2 separate regions of the Homo sapiens genome follow, and region 1 is linked to region 2. Evidence: fine-mapped expression QTL. Tissue or cell type: whole blood. Region 2 holds a variant in brackets; the other region holds the start of a gene. All regions are shown on one strand. Distances are from middle to middle. Region 1 holds the start of EIF4B (eukaryotic translation initiation factor 4B). Region 2 overlaps EIF4B (eukaryotic translation initiation factor 4B).

Region 1 (2,810 bases), 27 kb before region 2:
TGTAATTTAGACCTCTGTCTGAATGTCACTTCCTCAGAGGTCTACTCTGACAGGCAATCTAAAGTTGCACCTAATAACTTATTACACCACCTTGTTTTAATTACTCACAGAATACTTGTTGTAATATTTTATTAGTTGCTTATTATCTGTCCTTCCCCCACTAGAATATAACCTCTTTTGGGACAGTTCTATTCCATGTTGTACCCGCAAGTGTCTGTGCCTGGCACACGGTGGGAAACAAAAATTTTCATTTAATGAATGAAATGGAACATCAGCTAGGGGAAGCATGAATAGCCCTAGTCTCAGAAATCCTAAAGGCCTAAGTTGGACTAAACCTAGTCAGCAAATTGGACCATTAAATGAGGTAAAAGCCCATGACAATTAAGTGTTCAGCATTTGTTACCTTCTTATTCCGTCTAAATATGCCTCATTAAAACCATTCTTACACAAGACGTTCGATTTGTTTTGCCTTTACAAAAAGTAATTTGAAAACAAACAGTGGTTGATGCCTGTAATCCCGGCACTGTGGGAGGCCTCGGAGGGAGGAATGCTTGAGTCCAGGAGTTCGAGACCAGCCCAGGCGACACAGGGAGACACACCGCCCCCCCCAAGCCCGCCACTCTGTCTCCACACAAAGACTTTTTTTTAATTAGCTGGTCCTGGAGGCACTCGCCTGTGGTCCCAGCTACTCAGGAGGCTGAGGTGGAAGAACTGCTTGAGCCCCGGAGGTTGAGGCTGCAGTGAGCCGAGATCGCGCCACTGCACTCCAGCTTGGGAGACAGGGCGAGACCCCGTCTCAAAAAATAAAAATAAATAAAAATAAAATCAGTGATTTCTGATGTGGCTTTTAAAAACTAGGCCGGGCGCGGTGGCTCACGCCTATAATCCAGCACTTTGGGAGGCCGAGGCGGGTGGATAGCCTGAGACCAGGAGTTCAAGACCAGCATGGCCAATATGGTGAAATATCCCGTTTCTACTAAAAATACAAAAAACTAGCAGCGAATGGTGGTGGGCGCCTGTAATCCCAGCTACTCCAGAGGCTGAGGCAGGTGAATCGCCTGAACCCGAGAGGCGGGGGTTGCAATGAGCCGAGGTCGCGCACGCCATTGCACTCCAGCCCGGACAACAGGAGCGAAACTCCGTCTCAAAAAAGTACATTAAACTCAGAATCTTCCCTTTCAGCACATCCATTTCGCCACACCCATCACCGGCTCCGTGCAGAGTAAGCAGAAGCAGCAGCGAAGCCCCGCCCTTCCCGCCACTCTTCCGGCAGGAAGTCTGTGCGTCAGGAGGCCGGCCAGGACTCAGCTCCAGCCCCGCGCTCGCGTGTAGCCCTACGTAAAGCGTGAGGGGTTTCGCGACAACCCAGGCCCCGCCCCTTTGGCCACATGTCGCGCATGTCTTCCCGTCGGACGGCGTGCCACCTCGCCGCGCAGCTTTACGAACCTAGAGCAGCGCCGCCCCGCCTCCTGTCTCCGTCCTCACCTCCCCGCCCCCTCCCAGCTTCGCGTCTCCTAGCTCGACGCGCCCGCTATAATCACGTGATTGCCTCATCCGGGTCTTTTGCGTTCTCTTTCCCTCTCCCAACATGGCGGCCTCAGGTGAGCGAGCAGCCGAGCGCGGCCAAGGACTGGGCTCTGAAACCCCCCTCCGAGCGTGATCCACTGATTTCCTGAAGTCGGGGAATTGCTGGCACTGGTTCCTTTCTGAATTGAGGGCTGCGGCAGGCTGGCGGCGTGGCCCTGTTAGGTTACTGCCTCTGGATGTTTGGGGGGGAGGGGAAGGACACCTTCCCCTCCCCCTCACACTCTTTTCACCCTTTCTGCGCGAGATTGGAATAGGCAGTAATGGTAGACTCTGGCTTGAATTGGGGAAGGAGGCGCAGAAAGGTGTGCGGGTGGTGCGAGGCCTTTTCGTAGACGTGAATCACCGTGCCCGCGTGAAGGCGTGGAGGAAGGAAGGAGGCGGTTGCTGCGCGGACGAGTGCACATTAGACTACGTCTCCAAGGCGCGAGGCTGTAGCGGACCGGAGTGGGGGGTAGGGGAGTAAGTGTGGTGGGGGGGAGCAGTTGGAACGCGAGCGCGAGTTGGTGGAGGGGCGGGGGAAGGCAGCGGTGCGCGTGCGCGGTAGGAGACACGAGGGTAGTAGAGACGGGCGCGCCTTCAATGCGTGCGCTAGAACCCAGATGGGAAGCTTTTTAACGCGCCTGTGTTGCGCACTTATGTCCTTTTAGGTTGTCTCTTCCCTTTCTAGAGTGTGGGCCCTGTGCCTGTATTCTTCTAAGGGTGTGTGTGTTAGCCTTGGAGGTTGGTGCTATTGGCGTTAGATGGGGGTGGGGAATCCAGTTAGGTGCGCCCACGTGTTGGAGAAGCACCGGTGTGCACCTAGATTTCCTTCTAGGCTTTTTTCTCATACTCAATTGGAGGCATTTTTTACTCAGCGCAGCTATATGCCAGGATCAGGTTTCGCTTCCGGCGCTTCCATGTTGGTTGAATTTGGATAGCTCCAATGGTAGATTTCAGCCTTTTTTTTTTTTTTTTTTTTTTTTTTTTAAGGTAACTGTGCAACTACCAGCAGGTACTTTTAAAATAGTGCTTACTAATGGCTGGAGTTGCTTACTTCTTTAGACAACCTTGGAGGGGAGTATCAGTGCCTTGCAAGTCTAATTACATTTCTAATGGGCTTATAAAAGCAGTGATGACCCAACATCTTGTAGCATTGATTTTAGTTTGAGGAATATAGTTTGTTTTCTCTGGCATGACCTTGCATTCTTCAAAACATTATTTGAACTTCTATCTCTGGGTGCTCA
Region 2 (2,810 bases):
GCTGGGATTACAGGCGTGAGCCACTGTGCCCGGCTGCGTTCTTTTATTAATATCTTAAATGAGCTACTTTTTCTGAGCCCCTATTTTATCTTACAAAAGTGACGGGGCTATAACACAGATTTAAAATATGTTTAGGAACATATATAAACTGTCGGCTTAAAGCCCTCGTAGAAAATTTAGATCTTGTTAAACAGTACCCTCTATCTACAGGTACTATGTGCATATGTAGTAAAAGTATAAAATCAAGTGTGGGCATGATGAAGTCACCATCTAGTGGTTATTTAGAGGACAGAGTACAGCTGGTCATGTCATCAGGAGGTTTTACCTCTTTGTTAAGGTTACATTACTTAAGCCAGGTGATTGTATACATAGGCTTTCTTTATATTCTCTGTATCTTTTGTATATCCAAAATATTTAGGACAAACAATCATTTTTAGAAATTTAACTTCCTTGAAACACTTAGGTTTCTCTTGAAAGTGTTCTGACAACTTGAATTGAGGAAGAAATCAGACTGCCTGCCTTAAGAGTTTATTTGTTCAGTGTTACATGCTTTGCCCCATGAACCACCTGCCAAATTTATATTATACACAGAGACAAGGGTATAAGATCTAGAGTCTTCCTGGCTGGGCGTGGTGGCTCACATCTGTAACAGCACTTTGGGAAGCCAAGGCAAGCGGATCACTTGAGGTCGGGAGTTCAAGACCAGCCTGGCCAACATGGTGAAGCCCCATCTCTACTAAAAATACAAAAATTAGTTGGGCATGGTGCCACGTGCCTATACTCCCAGCTACTGAGGAAGCTGAGGCAGGAAAATCAGGGAGGCAGAGGTTGCAGTGAGTTGAGATCACACCACTGCCCTCCAGCCTGGGTGACAGAGCGAGACTGTCTCAAAAAAAATAAAGAACTAGAATCTTCCCTATCATATTGTATTAGTTCTTAACATGCAGATTTCGGAGCAAGATACTTTCATCCAGTAGTTTAATGATGGTCAAAAATTTCTTCCCATATAAAAGAAGTCTTGATAGATTATTAATTTATTACTTAAATGTTTACCATTTTTAGTCTTTCCTGTGGTCTTGTACTACATCATGGATGTGGTAGAAGAGTAATTGAACTTGGGTTTTTTTGTTTTTTTTTTTTTTTGAGATGGAGTTTGGCACTTGTTGCCCAGTTTGGAGTGCAGTGGTGTGTTCTCAGCTCACTGCAACCTCCGCCTCCCCGGTGGGTTCAAGCGATTCTCCTGCCTCAGTCTCCTGAGTAGCTGGGACTACAGGCATGTGCCACCACTCCTGGCTAATTTTGTATTTTTAGTAGAGATGGGGTTTCTCCATATTGGTCAGGCTGGTCTCGAACTCCTGA[T/C]CTCAGGTGATCCGCCCGCCTCAGCCCCCCAAAGTGCTGGGATTACAGGCGTGAGCCATTGCGCCCGGCCAGAACTTGGTTATTTATGCCACCTATTTTTATTTTTATTTATTTTTATTTATTTATTTTAGGCGTAGTTTTGCTTTTGTTTTCCAGCCTGGAGGGCTGGAGTGCAGTGGTGCGATCCTGGCTCACCACAACCTCTGCCTCCCAGGTTCAAGCGATTCTCCTGCCTCAGCCTCCCGAGTAGCTGGGATTATAGGCATGCACCACCATGCCTGGCTAATTTTTTATTTTTACTAGAGACGGGGTTTCTCCATGTTGGTTGTGTTGGTCTCGAACTCCCGACCCCAGGTGATCCACCCGCCTCGGCCTCCCAAAGTATCGGGATTACAGACGTGAGCCACCACGCCCAGCCTGAGCTACCTATTTTCTTTTTTTTTTTTCTTTTTTTTATTTTTGAGACGGAGCCTTGCTCTGTCACCAGGCTGAAGTGCAGTAGCTCGATCTTGGCTCACTGCAACCTCTGCCTCCCAGGTTCAAGCAATTCTCTTGCCTCAGCCTCCTGAGTAGCTGGGACTACAGGTGCGCGCCCCAACGCCCAGCTAATTTTTGTATTTTTAGTAGAGACGGGGTTTCACCATGTTGTCCAGGATAGTCTCGATCTCTTGGCCTTGTGATCCACCCGCCTCGGCCTCCCAAAGTGCTGGGATTACAGGCGTGAGCCACCATGCCCAGCCTAAACTACCTGTTTTCTAATGATCTATTTGCCTTCTGTGGATTGGTTAGGCCACTAACTTGAATCTCATGTAGCATTTCATAGGAGTTATATCTGAGAAATCTGGCTTTCAGCCATCAGCTTCTGGTGATTGGAAAACTATTACTTAAAGTTTCATTTAACTTAGGTCCCCCCCAAAGACCCAAACTGAATCTAAAGCCTCGGAGTACTCCTAAGGAAGATGATTCCTCTGCTAGTACCTCCCAGTCCACTCGAGCTGCTTCTATCTTTGGAGGGGCAAAGCCTGTTGACACAGCTGCTAGAGAAAGAGAAGTAGAAGAACGGCTACAGAAGGAACAAGAGAAGTTGCAGCGTCAGCTGGATGAGCCAAAACTAGAACGACGGCCTCGGGAGAGGTGTGTTGTCTTGATGGATATCCCATCTAGGAATCCGGTGGTTCGTAATGGGGGCATTACATCCCCAGGGGCATTTGGGAAATTTGTGTCGTTATCACATTAGTGGTTGTCACTGATGGGCATTTAGTGGGCTGTGGCCAGGGGTGTTAGGCAGTATGCAGTGTTAGGGACAGTTTTACACAATGAAGAGTTGTTCCCTGTCCATTACAAAAGTGTTTACTATTAAAAGCTGGTATTGTATCTAAAAGGCTAGAGACCTACTATAATAAGTAATTGCCCTGAAAAACTAGGCCTGGTAATGAGTGGCTTGTAGAACT

Evidence for each region. PIP is the estimated chance that this variant, and not a neighbour inherited with it, causes the effect.
Region 1: it holds the start of EIF4B, and the variant in region 2 is fine-mapped to the expression of EIF4B in whole blood (INTERVAL, PIP above 0.99).

The regions. Positions count from the first base shown.
Region 1 is chr12:53,004,896-53,007,705 of GRCh38, forward strand. EIF4B (eukaryotic translation initiation factor 4B) reads left to right here and starts at 1,561. Exons shown (of 15, transcript NM_001417.7): 1 at 1,561-1,601. The coding sequence starts at 1,589. RefSeq lists enhancers at 932-1,675, 1,676-2,419.
Region 2 is chr12:53,031,542-53,034,351 of GRCh38, forward strand. EIF4B (eukaryotic translation initiation factor 4B) reads left to right here. Exons shown (of 15, transcript NM_001417.7): 9 at 2,265-2,493. Among named protein-coding and RNA genes, the nearest start is that of TNS2, 17 kb to the right of the region's middle. The variant T/C (reference allele first, on the strand shown) is at 1,360.